Regions from separate parts of the Homo sapiens genome. Here regions 1 and 3 are each linked to region 2. Evidence: fine-mapped expression QTL. A gene starts in region 2. Each other region holds a variant in brackets. All regions are shown on one strand. Distances are between the middles of the regions. Region 1 overlaps MED12L (mediator complex subunit 12L). Region 2 holds the start of P2RY12 (purinergic receptor P2Y12). Region 3 overlaps MED12L (mediator complex subunit 12L).

Region 1 (5,964 bases), 23 kb before region 2:
CGCTTTATAGATAATATCAGGATTTTGTTTAACTTTTATTTTAGAACAGATTTATTACAGGTTTATTACAAAGGTATATTGCTTGGTGCTGAGGTTTCAGGTTATGATTGAAACCATCAGGAAGTGAGCATAGTACTCAGTAGGTAGTTTTGCAGACCTTTCCTCTGCTCTCTGTCTCCCCACTTCAGTAGTCCCCAGTGTCTGTTGTTCTCATCCTTATGTCCACGTGTACCTCATGCTTAGCTCCCACTTACAGTGAGAATATGTGCTTGGCTTTCTGTTTCTGCATTAGTTTGCTTAGGATAATGGCCTGCAGCTACATCTATATTGCTGCAAAGAGCATGATTTTGTTCTTTTTTATGGCTGCATAGTTTTTGGTTTGCTTGTTTATATAGTTAACAGGTTGAATCATTACTTTTCTTCTTAATTGTGTGACACTTTTGTTCTAATTGGCAGCTTTTACCTGCTGCTAGGTAGTCCCATCTGTTGATGTCATTTCACAGGGTTTGGGATACTACATTGCCATTTCCTCAAGAAGTCTCCTTGGTTCCACCTATGGTACCTGTGATTCCATTGTCCTCCTTGGCCTAGACATCCTATGTTCTCTCCACTTTGCCCTTTCCCCTGAATAGTACAGAGGAGTTTGATCTGGGAGTCTGGAAACCTAAGCTGTTGTCTTGCTTCTGCTAGAACTAGCTCTTTGCCTTTGAGCAAGTCACCCCACCTTTCTGCCTCTCAGAGCCTCCTTTATACAATAAGGATGGTGAATCAGATAGTTTCTAAAGCTTTTTTCGTCTTTAATAATCTGTCATCTGTGACTCCGTTAGTGTAATATAATGGCTGAGCCCTGTAACAAAATACAAGATGGTGATGGAATCAGATGCACAGATAGGTGAATGGACCACAAGTGTTTACAGCTGTGGTGTATGGACTTCTGTGTTGTATGGACTGTGGACAAAGAGGCCTATAACTACAGGAGTTATACAGAATATTACAAAACAGAAGGGGCTTTATCTTCTTATATAAGATAAACTAAAATAAATTTATTACTAGTTGGTATACATAGGGGAATGTATACATGCATAAGGGGAATGTGACTCCAAACCATGAACTGCTTATGCACTTGAAAATGGGTTTTCCAGATTGACTGCTTTGAAGCATTGCTCCTTTACAAAGGAGAAAACTTGGGAATCTTTGCACGCTGATGGAATTTGTGAATCTGCGGAGGCAGGGGCTCTCTACAACAGTTTTCCTTTTGTGTCTCAGTCCCAGCAACTTAATCGGTGGATTCCTCCATACGTACCTTCTTTATGAAGGAATTTCTTTCCTTGCTTTTGTTTCTTGTCATCAGTGACATTTCTGAAGTTTTTTTTAAAATCTATTTCAGTGTCATAATAGAAAAATTATATTGTACTGAGTTATTTACTATTCTATTTATTAGTTTCAACAATCCAATATCCTTTTTCTTACCCAAGTGATACATATTTTCATTCTAAAAGAGTCAAATGATAACCCACATAGTACAAATCTATGTCTTATTTCTTCGTATATTTTTCTCCTCAGGTTGTGTGGTGTGGTCAAGCATGTCGTAAACCCCTCAGAATGTTCTTCCCCTGAAAGATGCATTTTAGCCTACCTCTATGATCTCTATGTGTCATGTAGCCACCTCAGAAGTAAATTTGGAGACCTCTTCAGGTGAGTAGAAGAGACTCAAAAGGACAGAAATAGGATCATGCCTATGTTTGTTAGTGACCCTGACAATATTGTCATCCTTTTGAATAATGAAAGCTAATTGCAATTGTATCTATTAGGCAGTAATTTTGATATACTCATGATTTGTTTAAACTGAATATTAAAATAGACAGGGACAATACACGATAGTCTATTACACAATGTAAATGTGTGATCATAGGTTTTTTTTCCCCCAATATTGAAATGATGTTAGGTCTGATTTTATTTCTTCAATAAATAAAGTATTTCTTAAGATTTTACATTTTCTATATGTTGTACAGACAGTGCATTTTAAGTAAGTCCTACTGAAGTAATGATTATTTGATATATCTTTCCATTTTAAGTTTAAAATTCAATTTGGATTATAAATCTAATAGAAAGATCAATGAGGCAGCTCTTTGTATTTTGCTTTATTTGTATCCCTCTTGATTTTGATATCTACCTTTTCTGAGCTGACTTTTTGCATTACTTGGATTAGCTTTAATATCCTTTGGGCATTACAGTGTTTCATTTTTTATTTCCTGGTGACTCATAGAAGGTTCTATAGCCCCATTCACTTTTCTAGAACTTTTTCAGACTGTGTTTACTTTTCCTCTTTTTTCACAAAAACAATTTTGCTGTTTAGCAGGTAACTTTTTCATGTGTTAATGAGTTTTTTTAAAATGACCAGTACCCTCACTGAATAACATTAAATCAATGTGCATTAAAAGTAGGAAACCTGGTTTCTATTACAGATTGTATTAGATTCAGGTTCAGCTTGATAAATGCTATCTAATGTTTCCTGGTATGAAAAAAATAGAACTGAATTAATCATAAAAAGGTACTGTAAATTCTGCAGTTAACCTACTTGCTATCTTAGACTTAAAATTCATGACCTGATAATGATAGTAGTATTTGATTCCTGTCAATACATCTTATTGCTGAAGGAATATTTTATTGTTTAATGAGTCCAGAAAGTTGTATTTTTATAAATATTTTTATTTTCTTAATACTCTTATCCAGAATTTGTATTGAATTATTTTTGGCTGTAGCTATAACCTTTATTACAAATTACTGTAAGTGTGAGAGACAATATTCTGTGCTTTGCTCTTGAAATCACCCCACTCAGAACATTCTTTCAGAGCTATTTGCATGCTGACTTCTTCACTCCGTTTGTCTTTCTGCTTCCATGGCCATTCCTACTTCAAATAGCATCCCCAACTTCCTGTCATTCGTTGTATCTTAGCACTTGCTACCCCCACAGGCAGCACTAGGGCTGGAAAGTAAATGCTTATTTAATGTTATTTTGAGGACAATTATTTACTATAGATGGGTAGGAGGAGAGTGGTAGAAGGTAATAGCTAAGAAAACAAATTTGGAATCCAGAAGGAGGTAGGGAAAGGATGTTCAACTACCATTTTTTTTCCTTTGTCATACCTCGTATCCAGTTTGTAAATTCTGTGATCTCTGCCTTCCAAGCATCTCTAGAACCTGCCCATTCTTCACCCTCTCTTTACCGCTGTGGATACCTCTGCTTGGACCATTGCAGAG[T/G]TCTTCTAACTGGTTTCCTTGCTTCCACCCTTAACTCTAAAACACATTTTCAACATCCACTAAAGTGATCCTTTTAATATACGAATGATTCACAGGCTTTCAGTGATTTTCCACCCACTCAGAATAAAATTCACCATCCCTACCTAGCCTTCAAGATCTGCAGGGTCCCATCTTCTCTTCCACCCCTTTCCCTCTGTTTATTGTGGCCACACAGACCTCTTTACTGATCAAACACTCTAAGAACAACCCACAGTAGGGCTTTTGCACTTTATCTTACGTTGCTTGTGATACTTGTCCTCAGTTACTTGTGTGCCCCACTCCCACACTTCACTCACGACTGTCTCCCTGAGCACACCATTTTAAATAGCACCCCCATGTCATCATTCTGAGCCTCAGCACTTGCTACCCCCACTGTAGATTCTATATTTATTTATGGCCTGGCTCCTCCTTAGAATGTATGCTTCATGACAGCAGAAGCTTTTTCTATTTTTTTCACTGCTACATCCCAGTGTCTTGAAGAGTATGTGGCTCTTAGTAGGCACTGAAAAAAAAATCTGTTGAATGATAGTTATATCTAAGACAATTCATGTTTTTAATGGTATTAATAAAGTGTGAAAATATGAAATGGGTTAGGTTTCAAAATAATCCTTTGTGAAATATTTGAGTGGGTCTTAGGAAATATCTTTCCACAGAAATTGTGTCACAATTTAAAAATACTTAACATTCTTCTCTTACTTTACATAGAGCTTTCCATTTCAGCTTACATTTTTCAAAGAGCTTTCTCTTACATGATTTAGTTCTTACAGCAGCCGTTTTTTTAATAGTGAACTTCCTCAGACAGCCCCAGTAGCCTATTTGACCCTTAATACTCCTGCAGTGTGGTGCAAATAGGTTAAATGAGGTAATTCAAGTAACATGCGCTGGGCGTGGGGTGTGTGGAAATTTAGGGTACCAGCACACAGTGAATAGAGTAATTACTCAGGGGTCAGCAGAGTGGCACATCATAGTGATTGGCACTGTCTAAAGTTTCCTCTATTTGAAAAAATGAAAGAGAAATACAACTTTCTTGGGATATCTTGAAGTCAGAGACCTATTTGTAGTTTGAGATGAAGAAAAATGGGCAAACAAAAGCTGGATACACAGAGAGATTTCTATCAGTATGCTGATAAAACAACTTTAATAATTTTATCTGAACCACCATTCATAAAGTTGTGTGAGAGGAGTATTTTTTTCTGAAACACCATTCACACAGTTGTGTGAGAGGAGTATTTGGGGGAGATACAACACTGGTCACCTCTACCACTGATTGAGCTACTGCTGTGTGCCAAGCACTGTGCTGGGTTATTTCCATCAAGAGCTTTATTTCTCACATCAACCTCAAGAAACTGAAAATGTCATGACTCTGAATTGCAAACTTGTATCCTTCAATGACAACCAACACATTTTTTAAAATATAAGTTGTCTACACAGAAAGAGAGTGTAGAAGATTGTAATTGCTGCCATTTAGTAGATGACTTTAGTCCTCTTTGTTAGAGTAGTGCTTCCCAAGCATTACTTGGCACTTGATTTATGTGGGAGATCTTGTTACACATACGGACTCTATACACCCACAGTGGAGGCCCAGGATTCTATATTTTTAACAAACACCCCAAAAGTGATTCTCAAGGAATAGAGCTGAAACTACATTTTGGTAAACATTGAACTGAACAATCTCTGTTTTCTTAAAGCTATTGACAGTGGCAATAGTTTAGAATAGAGAGTCTTTGTGACTTTTCATCTTCGAGGGACTCATTCCTGGCTGCCATTGATGCAAGTATATAACAATATGGGGTTTAAAAAAAAAGCCATAGGTCACCACAAACCACAAATACTTTTGCTGCCAAAAACTTAATCTATAAAACAGACTTTCTGATGCATAAAAGAGCTTTTGAGTAGAGAGAGTGAATGTTGTTTATGGATATGCTACCTACAGAAGGTAAGCACAAATGGCTAAGTTTATATAGAATCTGAGATTTTACATCAAATCTTTCTGCCAGTCTCATTCACAGAGCAGGTTTGGAGGAGATAGGTTCTAATTCCTGTTATACTTCTAGTAGTCTATATCTGATTCAGACGTAACTCACTGAAACATGAGCTGTTTTTATATGATAGAGCAGGCTCTTTAAAAATCTCTTAATGCCTCTGAGAAATACAACATGATAAGTTTTTATGAATGATATAATAGTTTTTTCACTTCCATAGAATTTGTGTATTATCCATATCCCCTTACTAGAATGTAAGTTCATTGAAGACAAGGAATGTGCCTCTCTTTTTCACAGCTGTGCCATAGTCTCCAGAATAGTCTTGGCACACGAACTTCTACTGCGTACACTATACCAGAGAAATAGTTTTGTAAGATATGTAATTAAGAGTACTCTTATGTGTAATTGAATCTTTTTTTATTTTTAAGTAATAACACTTTTCAACAACTGTTAAGACACAGTTGTTGGAAGCCATAGTAATTTCTTTGATTTTTAAAGCATGTAAAATGTAGACCATATTTAGGAAATAATTAAGATTTATAACCAAATACTTCATTTCTGTTTTGTTCTTCCACCTATTTAGAAATTATTTATTGAGGAATTTCTACATTCCAAAGTACTTTGATTAGCGCCAATTAGTAAGAAGTTCTAATTAAGAACTCATAATGTGAATCTTCTCTAG
Region 2 (5,964 bases):
CAAGGAAGACACATACATAAGATAGCAGACCTTCTCTTCTATAAAACATCAAAATAATACATTTGCTAGGGTTCAGCAAGTCCCTAGAAATATAACAGGACTGAGGCAAAATGTAATTCTCTCTCTCCAGTGTTTTTCTTCGTAAGATCAATGAGGTAATGTATTTTAAAAGTTTTTATTAATGCTTAATTTGATGGCCCTCTCAAGCATTTTCCCAGACTTAATCATAGGCTAGCTATATAATTATATAAGATTTTCTTCCTCCACCTAGAACGGCAAATGCACAAATAAATAGCCAGATTTCTTTCTGCATGGAGGAAGAAGAAAGCTAAAATTTTATTTAGCTTTGTTTGTTAATTTGTTAAAGATAAGAAGTGGTTTTTTGCTATCAGTATAAAGCTCAATTTATCTTTAAATGAGAGAAAAATTAAACTTTAATGGGGAGTTTTTTTCCGGATCTTAGATTTTAAGTAACTGGAGAGAAGAACGATACCAAGATGACATAAAAGCGCGGCAGATGATGCACGAAGCATTGCAACTCCGCCTAAATTTGGTAAGTGACATTTCTAGTATTTTCCCTCCATTAAACATATTTACATGTGAAAATACCTCCAGCTTTCCACTTCTCCTAAGTGCAAAGTCTGCATTACAAGGTGAGGCCTTCCACTCTTTGCTCTCTGTAATTACTTCCCTGTTTCTAAAGCCTTCTGTTTCCCTTGCTGCTTTCCTTCCTGTCTGGTCAGACATCTAGACAGTGCTAGGTATTTTAAGCATAGATTTGCCTTCTCTACCTCTACCCCAGTGAATCTCTCCTTCTCTTCAGTTTGTGCTAAGAATAAATCTGAGAAGACTGTTATAAGTGTTAGCTTCTACTATACTTACTTAAAACCATTTAAAAAGTCTTTTAACTCAAAGTTTTGTCCAACTTTCCATCAAATTGATTATAAAGACAAATCCCACAGAGAAGTTTTATAGAAATTTAAAATGTCTCACATATTGTGCATTCCTTGAGTTTTCTTTTCCCATCAGGCAGGCCCAAGTGCAGGCCCCTCTGGAGGATGGCCTGCCTGATACTTTTGCAGTTGTTTCTAACCTTGTCCCAACACGTGAACTGGTAGGTGTGCGGGCCAAGCCTCCTGCCCACCACTGCTGTGATAGTGGATGTTTCCATATGGTATTATGATAGCAGGCTTAGATTCAATAGTAATTGTACAGCAAACACAAAGATGCAGATAATTGGATTACATGACTTTGACATTATTCAGGTTTAATTCAACTATAATTGCATCATAAAACTGGACATCATAAAAGATTTGGAACAAAAGAAAGCTAAGTTTATTGGTGCCCACATTCAGATACTCACGTCCCTTCTTCATTTTAGTTAATGTTTGAATGACTGAACTGTGCTGAAAGAACTAAAAATAGTGATAAACATGTAGGTAAAAGAGAAAAGATAAGGTAATCTATAAACTAGAGCATCCCTTGTTTTTTTAAATAAAAAACAATCAAAATTTGATAACATAAAGCAATGGGGTGTTCTTTCTGTTTTACAGAATGCAAATATCTTACTGTATTTTGTCTGCTAGGTAGGAGGAATGTTTGACACGGTGCAGAGGAGCACCCAGTGGACTACAGACTGGGCCCTGCTACTCCTTCAGATCATTACTTCAGGAACTGTTGACATGCACACTAACAAGTATGTTTTTATCACTTCACATTGATTTTGCTACATGTATGCATGGTATAAGCTTTGATATACTGATGGCGATTTCTGCCACATCTTATTTACTTGGATGCTATTAAAAATTCTGTGCCTTGAATAAAAATACTCAGTTAAATAAGTGTATTTCAGTTTCACTTTAAGATGAAAATAATTATTTTCTTTCTTAGTGAATTATTCACAACAGTTCTTGACATGCTGGGTGTTTTAATCAATGGAACGTTAGCCTCTGACCTATCAAATGCATCCCCTGGGGGATCTGAAGAGAACAAGCGTGCATACATGAATTTAGTAAAGAAACTGAAAGTAAGTTTGAGATCAGCCTGTATTATGAGCTCAAGTTGTTTATGGATTTATTATCTAGTGCATTTTAATTTATTACTCATTAAATGTTATTAATTGTATTCAACTTAATTTAATGTGATTATTTGCTATTTGTTTCACCTAACCTTATTAGTACCCAGAAGTTACATGCACATAACCTTGATTATTTTTTATTGAAAACAATTACATTATAAAACATGTTTAATTTTTTAAAGAACTTTAGAAATCCACTGTTAAATATATAACCAGAATACTAACATTAGATAGATTTAGGATAACTCTATGCTTGGACTGGCACGTGTAATTGAAAAAATAGCCATCTGCATTGAAATTTATAAATCGATTCATTTGACCGACCACTAACAGACTCCTTTAAAAAAAAATTGTAAGAAAACAGTGCAAAAAAGAAACCAAATAAATCTGATGCATTACCAATCAAATAAATCAATGGTTACCTTGTAATCTGACCCTGGACATGAGAAAGTGTTCTGTTCTGCAGCTCCTGTCTTCTGATTGTGATCACTACCCTGGATTTTTGTCATTTCAGCACTATGATGTTTGTTGTGTAACAACAGTGCCTTTGTATGTGTTCTATTTTCTACTTAAATAGAAGAAATGAAACACTCATTGCTCTATTTGGAACTGCCTTGTAGAACATGTTCAGGGTTAAAGAACATGCGCTAAGCTATAAAAAGGGAAATGTTTCATAGGGGAACTTCCTTCTGGTTAACTTTTGCCTTCATTGTAATTTCTGTCCCACTTCTCACTCTCTCTCTCTCTCTTTTTTCTTTAGAAAGAGCTAGGAGACAAGCGATCAGAAAGTATTGACAAAGTTCGACAGTTACTACCTTTGCCGAAACAGACATGTGATGTCATCACTTGTGAACCTATGGGTTCCTTGATTGACACAAAAGGAAACAAAATTGCTGGATTTGACTCTATAGATAAAAAACAGGCAAGAGTGAATGTTTTTTCTTATATATAAATTTATTTACAAAAGATGAAATACTTTTTTTTGTCTTACCATAGGATATATAAAATATATTAATTTTGCTGTTGATGTTTTTAAGGCATATGCTTGTCTTCTAAGTGTACTTAGTCATTGGCATTATCATATAAAGAGGTCATATCTTTGAAGATCTACGTTTTATATGTTTAAAGGACTTAAAATGTTTCCCTGAATTTAAGTAAATTTTTGGAAACCTACCAAGAGAAAACTAAGTAAAAGCTTAGTGTAAAAAAAAAATTGCATAAATAAGTTCTGATTATACTTCAGATTTAGAAGCAGAATATATTTATCAATGAAAAATTTCTTGTAAGCTGAGCATGGTGGCACATGTCTTTAGTTCCAGCTACTTGGGAGGCTGAGGCAGGAGGATTGCTTGAAGCCAGGAGTTTAAGGCTGCAATGTGCTAGGCTCATGCCTGTGAATAGCCACTACACCCTAGCCTGGGCAACAAAGTGAGACCCTGTCTCTGGGGGGGGAAAAAAAAAAAAAAACCTTCCTGTAGTAAGCTATTTCAAATAAAAATTATTTTAATTGTTAGGATATTCTCTATTCCTATCAAGCAGTATTTAATGGACATTTGTTTTATATAAGATATTAAAGATGGTTCTCTAAAATATGAGAAAATTGGTCAGTTACTCTTTTAATGAACAGTAAGCAACCACCGACATTCCACAATCACCAAGATGAAAGACAGAGTTCCTACCCTCAAGGGGGAAGTAGACAGACAATTACAGTGTAATGAGATTTGTGTGACATGGTACAGAGAGAGTATTAGGGGATAGAATAGAGGGTCCCCAGGAAAATTGACACGAGTCATTTTGAAGGATTAAGAGTTAGCTGGGAGGTAGGGAAAATTGTGGTACAAATAAAGGGAGAGTTTATATGAAGACATGAAAGAATCAGATTTACCAGGGAATTTAGAGTAGCCTGAGAATCTAATACCAGTTTGTGTAAAGAAAAAAAGCTAAAGTCATGGTCAAGTTTGAGTTTGCAGTGTCAGCGGACTTCCTGGTAGTAAGACATCTGGAATCCATTTGGATGTGTGGTTTTTACACCAAGGAAAAAGTTCTCATCTCAAGACAAATATTAGGAAACAGTCAATTTACAGGTGGCAATTGAACCTTGGTTTTATTTTGTTTTACTTTGTTTATTTATATTTTTTGAGATGGAATCTCGCTCTGTCGCCCAGGCTGGAGTGCAGTAGTGCGATCTTTGCTCACTGCAACCTCTGTCTCTCGGGTTCAAACGATTCTCCTGTCTCAGCCTCCTGAGTACCTGGGATTACAGACATGCACCACCAGGCCCAGCTAATTTTTTTTTGTTTTTGTCTTTGTTTTTTTTTTTTTTTCAAGACAGAGTCTTGCTCTGTCACCCAGGCTGGAGTGCAGTGGCGTGATCTCGGCTCACTGCAACCTCCACCTCCCGGGTTCAAGCAATTCTCTGCCTCAGCCTCCTGAGTAGCTGAGATTACAGGTGCCTGCCATCATGCCTGGCTAATTTTTGTATTTTTAGTGGAGACGGAGTTTCACCATCTTGGCCAGGCTGGTCTTGAACTCCTGACCTCGTGATCCACCTGCCTCAGCCTCCCAAATTGCTGAGATTACAGGTGTGAGCCACCACACCTAGCCTTTTTTTGTATTCTTAGTAGAGACGGGGTTTCACCATGTTGGCCAGGCTGGTCTCAAAGTCCTTACCTCAGGTGATCCCACCCGCCTCAGCCTCACCAAGTGTTGGGATTACAGACACGAGCCACTGTGCCTGGCCTGAACCTTAGTTTTAGATGAAGCTACTCATAAAAGAATGCATATAGATAACAACAGTAACACTTACATCTTAGGGAATGACTGAGTAGTTATTTGGGGGCCATTTAAGGAAAAATATTTTTAAATTGACATTTTAAGGCAAGTGCCAAGAGATGTCACCAATTAATGTTAAGAATAAAAAGAGGGTAACCGTTTTTTTTTTTCTAGAGTCAGTAAATATAAGCTTGAGTTGAAAGACTTTACTTATTCCTGCTGCTACAATTTAATTCTCTAATAATAATATTATATTCAGAGTATGGCTTATTAAGTACAGGGCCCACATATTGAACCAAGTTCATGCAGATTTGGATTGAAGTTAATACTAACCCAATTACAGGTTGACTATAACTTGACTCTTAAATTTGATATTATCTTCAAAATTATAAATAGATTACAGAGATTTAGAACTGGTTATAATTTAGTAAGATTAACTTTGCAGTGTTAGAATTTTTAGCAACAAATTTTTAGAATTTTTTTAGCAAAAAGAGGAAATACACATTAACAATAAAATATGCTAGACTGCCTCTGTTGCCTAAACAGAGCATCATGTGGTTAAAGAACTGTAGAACCGGGCTTACAAAGGTCTGAATTCTAGCCACTGCTCTCCGGTGATGTAGCTGTGTAACCCTCTCTGCTGTATTCTCGGGTTCTCTAGGGCTCATGCCAGCCAAAGTGTTCTCTGACTCCATGTCCCATACAAGCCTGGCCTATGAATAAGGAAAAGATCTGAGTGTGCTATCTTAGAGCGCTATTTTCCCACAGGGTCTCCAGGTCTCTACGAAGCAGAAGGTGTCCCCGTGGGACTTGTTTGAGGGTCAGAAGAACCCAGCTCCTTTGTCCTGGGCCTGGTTTGGGACAGTCCGAGTGGACCGAAGAGTGATCAAGTACGAGGAGCAGCATCACCTCCTGCTGTATCACACACACCCCATGCCCAAGCCCCGCAGTTACTACCTCCAGCCACTGCCCCTGCCTCCTGAGGAGGAAGAGGAAGAGCCCACATCTCCAGTTTCTCAGGAACCAGAAAGGAAGTCCGCTGAGCTGTCAGATCAGGGAAAAACCACAACAGATGAAGAAAAGAAAACAAAAGGAAGGAAGCGCAAGACGAAATC
Region 3 (5,964 bases), 29 kb after region 2:
TAGTCCTCCTCAAATTTTGAGTTATGAGAACCTTTGAAAACAGTGAATTTCAGGGGAGTCCTCATGGGTTTGTTTTTGCCCCATATATCGTAGTGATGGGAAAGCTAGGTGATAAGTTGAAACATTGACTTCTTCCCTTGTGCCTACCTGCAGACCATGCCACAGGGCTATACAATGTATGGGACACAGATGCCTTTGCAGCAGACATCGCAGCAGCAGGCTGGCAGTGTGGTCCTGTCTCCCAGCTATAACTCCAGAGCCTATCCGGCCGCACATTCCAACCCCGTGCTAATGGAAAGACTCAGACAGATTCAGCAGCAGCCGAGTGGCTATGTTCAGCAGCAGGCCTCGCCGTACCTGCAGCCCCTGACTGGCTCTCAGAGGTGATACATGTGGAAATGATGATGGCAATAATGAACAGTCACATTCTCGGGTTTCTTATGCTTCTTATAGGGCATGGTACTTTATCATTGTTTTTATGAGCTTGCATATTTGCAGATAATTTGCATTCTGTCATCTCGTTTTTAGTAGTATCCAGATAGAGGTTCAACATAAAGAATGCTCCATCTTGTTTATTTCATTAAAGATCCTTACAGTTTTGACTCATGTCTTCCAAGACATGAGTGTAACAGTCTTTACGTGATAGTGTGTTTGCTTCAGTGTTCTTTTTTTTCCTCTTCTTTTTTAAAAATTCTCTGAACATATCTAACAGAGAAAACTCTTGATTATTGTTAGGAATGCCTTACTACAATTTGTTGATTGGAGCAATAAAATGTGTGATTGCAATACTAATTGTGCATGGTGCACATGAGAGTTTTGTTATAACTTAGTTTCTACCTTTTCCACCTCAAAGATATTTGGCAAAACAGGATTATGATAGACTTTTTTCTGTTCTTGTTTAATTAGATCCCTTAGAGTGTATAACTGTACTGTCTGTTGTAGTAGCTGCCAGCCACCTGTGGCTGTTTAAATTTAGACTATTTAAAATTAAATTAATAATATAGTTCCTCAGTCACACTAGTCACATTTCAAGTGTTCAGTGGTAGCCAAATGTGGCCAGCAGGACTAGCTTCAATGGTGTGTGACGTGCACTGTGTTTAGAAGGGCCTGTGTTTAAAAAGGCTTCATGCTTAGTTTAATGCTCTGCAGTTTCTCTGTGGAAATTCTTACTAAGTTTTGATCAGGGAGCCTTGTGTTTTCGTTATTCACTGAGACCCCAAAATTATGCAGTTCGTTCTTGTGGCTAGTAGTTATCTTATTGGACAGCGCAGAGAGAAAACATTGCAGCCATCATAGAAAGTTCTGTTGGATAGTACTGTCTTAGCAGCATCATGTAAAACGTGTCCATCTAGTGGATAGCAGCACAGCTCCCATCTGTTACCATCAATGGCTGCATGACGACTCCAAGTAATCGCTCTTTGGAAAGTTAGCAAGGTTGATGGTAACACATTTGAGAAAATAGATATTTTGGATAATAATTTGGAAAATGTGCATTGTATGTACAATTTTTATAATAAATAGCAGCATAGCATGGCCCACAAACTTGAATTTCAAAGCCCAAAAGTTCTGGGTTCAAATCCCACCTGTGCCATTTGCTTTCTTAATAAGTTACCTCTAGCTCTGTTTTTTCATTTTTAAAGTAGGGATAACGAAACTGCTGACCTTAAAGGGCTCTCTGGTGGGGAGTAAATGAAGTAACACATTTCAGACCTTTAGTACAGTGCCTGCTTCAAAGTAAATGCTCAATTAATATTCCTCGTTGTTAAAAACTATTAAATGTTTAAAAAGTGATTTATTGCATGACTGCAATTTTACCTTAAGTCATGTGCTTGCTGTACTTTTTCAAGTGGTCACATCTATTATTTTAACCACTGGGCTTTAGTCTATTTGAATTGTGCAAAGGATTATTGAGCACTGATTGTTTCTTGGTTGGTGTATGTCATGTGCTGGTAGCACTGATTAAAAGTTTGACATTATGCTTGGGCCTGAACCAAGTTGCATTATTCTTTGCCAGACTGAACCATCAGGCTCTACAGCAGAGCCCTCTGGTGGGCGGGGGAATTGATGCTGTGCTGACTTCTGCACATCCAAACCTTCCCTCCGTGCCCCTGCCTCAGGATCCCATGAGACCCAGACAGCCGCAAGTTCGACAGCAGCAGAGACTCCTCCAGGTACGGGGCAGGGAGATGAGGGCAATGCCATCACCCTTCAGACAGTGCAAATATGCAACAGTCATAAAAAATGAAAAACACTATAGTTGTCAATTGCCAGATTCCAAGGATCCCTGTGGATTTGATGCTAGGAGCTACATTGGTACAATTTAGTTACAACTTGGCAAGAATTTTATTTTCTCTGTGTATCTACCAGGTTATGGGCAGAAGAGTACGTTTTGCAGAACATTCTTCCCATTTCACAAAGGTTTGGGAGGGCAGACGGATGCCTTTAATAGAGTTGGCCTCAGCTTACCCAGTCTCTGTTTAAGTAGGAGCCATGCAAATTTTTTAAAAGTGTCATAAATGTGAAAACAAAAAACTGAGCCATCCAGAGCTTTCATCAGATTCCTAGAGCATTCTGCAATCTAAAAACATTTCTATAACACCTCTGGTCTGATAAGGCTGTGAAATGGGAGGAACATAGACTGTTTCAAAGGATATTTCATCTTGTCTTTGTTAGAATCCAGAGAACTGTCATTCACTTATTTGATGTACATTTTAAGTCAGTTAGATAAAGGGTTCTTCCCCTTGATACATTTTTTTTTTTTTTTCCCCTTAAGACGGAGTCTCCCTCTGTCACCCAGGCTGGACAACCTCCACCTCCCGGGTTCAAGTGA[T/C]TCTCCTGCCTCAGCCTCCTGAGTAGCAGGGATTACAGGCGCCCACCACCACCCCTGGCTAATTTTTTTGTATTTTTAGTAGAGACGGGTTTTTGCCATGTTGGCCAGGCTGGTCTCAAACTCCTGACCTCAAGTGATCCGCCCACCTCGGCCTCCCAAAGTGCTGGGATTACAGGTGTGAGCCACCACACGCAGCTTCCTTGATATGTTCTTGTTTCTGACTTGCTTATTTAAAAAATATAGGCCATTATGTTTACCTGTGTCATTTGTCTTCAATATTAACAAGCTTGTCCTATGTTATTGGACTGGAGATTTCCTAAGGAGACTGTACAGTGGGCTCTAATCTTATCAGCAGTCCAACTTGAGATACACACTTACTTTATATACTACCAAGAACAGAACACCAAAAATGAGGAATCTAGTAGAGCTGGAGTGCCCAAGGGCTGTACTCTCAACTCGGTATGAGGTCAGTGAGAAGTAAACCTGCCATGCAGAAAGGGACACAAAGGAGCTTGGATGTCTTATCCTTGACACTGGATAGAGGGGAGAAACAAATATCTCCCCTGAGCATTTGAACCACAAGCTCCGGTGGGTTTGAGTCTGAATTCAGTGTGATCCACAAAATTCTGGTTGGTAGTGCCCAGGTGACAGGCAAAAGCCAACACACCCTCTGGAACTGGGCTTCCCAATTATAAGATGCCATTAGTAGTAAGATGTCATTAGTTCCATCCCAATTTGTGACCTGTTAAAAATGTTAAAAAAAAAAAAAGTTGTATCACAAAATTGATAACATGTGGTAACCGATTAGGAGAGTATGGCCTTCAGATAGCAATCTCAGTCATTGTATAGATGTTGTTTCCAATGGTAAAAGCTCTCTAATCCTGTTTTGTCATGGAAATACTTATAGTACCTATCTCTTAAATATGTAGAAAGGATTAAATAAGAATATTCAAGTAAACCACTCATTTGATAATTTTACGATTAATGTTATGACTATTATCATTACTATGAGTACTCACTTTCTTAAATCATTTTTTCCAAGTTCTGAGGCTATGTTTCAGAATTTTTTAGGATTGATAATTTATATTTTGCTCTAGTTTAGAATTTCTCATTTCCAAATCACTGAGGAAAGTTACCACATTATTTGTTTACTTACCAGTTTTAAATCTTATGTTGGTGTTTTTCAAGGCTGCAAATACGGAAAGCCTTTTCTTATTAGACCATATGTACTTTTTATCCTAATTAGCATAATATGTCCTTCTGGTAATTTTTTCATCATCAACACATTCTTCCCTGGAGATAAGTGATTTGCTTCTACAACAGGATTATACTTCTTTTTTGGTGACTGGCCACCTCTGTAAAGGAAAAAGTTAATAATGATGAAGTTGGGTTAATTTTTCTTAGAAGAGGTTCTAGAGGGCTAACTGGAGAATCATATTGCAGTCATTGTGATTTGGGTCCAACTTGCGTTGTTCTTGTTGGGATCATGCTACCCAGACCTCTGCTAGGATTCCAGATCCATGAGCATTGTCACTTAGTGAGACATGCCATATGGCAATAGCTATTTATTAGTTGGCTGTAAAGCAGACCAGTAATTGAGGGGATAGTATGCAAACCAAGTTGGAAAAGTACAAAAGATGAAGAAATGTCTAGACTGTCATCATTATCAGGATGAAGTGTTTGGGTGGAGGAAATTTTAAAGGTCATTGAAACAAAACAAAACAACTATTAATATTTTTCTCTCCTCTGTGTCCCACCTTGTGGATGTCTGGTCTGTGCTTTTTCTGTGACTTGGAAGCATTTTCCAAGAGCTGTGTGTTTGAGCCAACCCTGTTACTGACATGATTTCTGAATTTCTGATGTAAATTATGCCAGAAGGTGTCATGGCGACTAGTCTGCCTCTTCCTTTTGGAAAAAAACAAAAAACAAAAAAAAACCTTTAAGAATTCTGCCAGATATCATAAAGAATGAGAGGATTACTACTGAGCAGTCCCCGTCCAACCTGTAGTGTAAGAAGGGATAAAACATGCGGAAGGACAAAGGACATGAAAGGAATTAAAACAGTAAGCAGAAGGGATGGCCCCGGACAGCGCAGTGTGGAATAGACAGCAGTACTGACTGCCAGTGGAAGAGATCCGTAGGGTTGGGGTGGTCCTAGAAGGCTTCATGGATGAGCAGGTTTAGGTCTTGCCCTCAAAAGGACGAATGAGGTTCAGCAAGGTAGAGATGCAGCAGGCAGGTATATATTGTTTTTACTACAACATAAAAATTAGATAAAAGGTATATGGGGGAAACAGATTCAGCAATGCTGTTTTCTTCTTCCTTTTAAGTGTATAACATTTTTACCCTCTTTCCAGATGCAGCAGCCCCAGCAGCCCCAGCCCCAGCAGCCTCCCCAGCCCCAGCAGTCCTCGCAGTCCCAGAGTCAGACCCTTGGTCTCCAAGCAATGCAGCCCCAGCAGCCCTTGGTAAGGCCTGTTGTTTTGGAATCAGACATGTGGGTTTCTTCTTTAAAAGCAGGTTGCATTGTTCATGTTCATAAGATTGTTAAGAATCGACAAAGCCTAAGTATACCCTAAAAATTTTTCCTAGAACTTTACTAGAGTTTTATTGTCATTGTAGTTGGTATATTTATTTTCATAGGAAGATACAAGTAAATATTTGGGATTCAGTAGGTTATACCATTATTCTTCAAAATTTTTCGGACTGTTCCACAGACAAAATTTTTTACATTGAGACGTGGTCTTTTTTTCCTAAACAATGATAAAACGATGATTTACTATGTATGTTTAAAAGAGTGTCTTACCATACTTTGATTTTTACTATAATCTCAAAAACCATGGGCGCACTTTCTAAAATATTATCTATTATCTTCAATAAGAAATTGTTTTTCATTCAGTTAGCACTTGCTGCAAGAGTTTTCATGTAACTCACAGTCGGATAGTTCACTTCTCTAGCTTCATAAATCAAATTTGGAAATGTCATATGCATAGCCATCAAAGTTTTCTAAACCTCAGTCATTTACAACAGCCATATTCCTGTTTCATTAATTACTTTTTTTTAAACTGTCATCTTATTATATTTGCTTAAATAAATGTAGTTTTCAAAGAAGCATTTTATCATTACCATCCATA

What was found. PIP is the estimated chance that this variant, and not a neighbour inherited with it, causes the effect. A credible set is the group of variants that fine-mapping cannot tell apart.
Region 1: its variant is the best candidate, but not a certain one, in a credible set for the expression of P2RY12 in whole blood (INTERVAL, PIP 0.67).
Region 3: its variant is the best candidate, but not a certain one, in a credible set for the expression of P2RY12 in whole blood (TOPMed, PIP 0.68).

What each region holds. Positions count from the first base shown.
Region 1 is chr3:151,358,911-151,364,874 of GRCh38, forward strand. MED12L (mediator complex subunit 12L) reads left to right here. Exons shown (of 45, transcript NM_001393769.1): 21 at 1,564-1,695. The region is part of intron 1 of P2RY12 (purinergic receptor P2Y12); the gene reads right to left. Among named protein-coding and RNA genes, the nearest start is that of P2RY12, 23 kb to the right of the region's middle. The variant T/G (reference allele first, on the strand shown) is at 3,262.
Region 2 is chr3:151,382,193-151,388,156 of GRCh38, forward strand. It overlaps P2RY12 (purinergic receptor P2Y12), which reads right to left and starts at 2,561. Exons shown (of 3, transcript NM_022788.5): 1 at 2,500-2,561. It overlaps MED12L (mediator complex subunit 12L), which reads left to right. Exons shown (of 45, transcript NM_001393769.1): 33 at 464-553; 34 at 1,587-1,696; 35 at 1,891-2,026; 36 at 2,838-2,999; 37 at 5,618-5,964.
Region 3 is chr3:151,411,125-151,417,088 of GRCh38, forward strand. It overlaps MED12L (mediator complex subunit 12L), which reads left to right. Exons shown (of 45, transcript NM_001393769.1): 41 at 154-383; 42 at 2,015-2,171; 43 at 5,188-5,298. Among named protein-coding and RNA genes, the nearest start is that of P2RY12, 29 kb to the left of the region's middle. The variant T/C (reference allele first, on the strand shown) is at 2,831.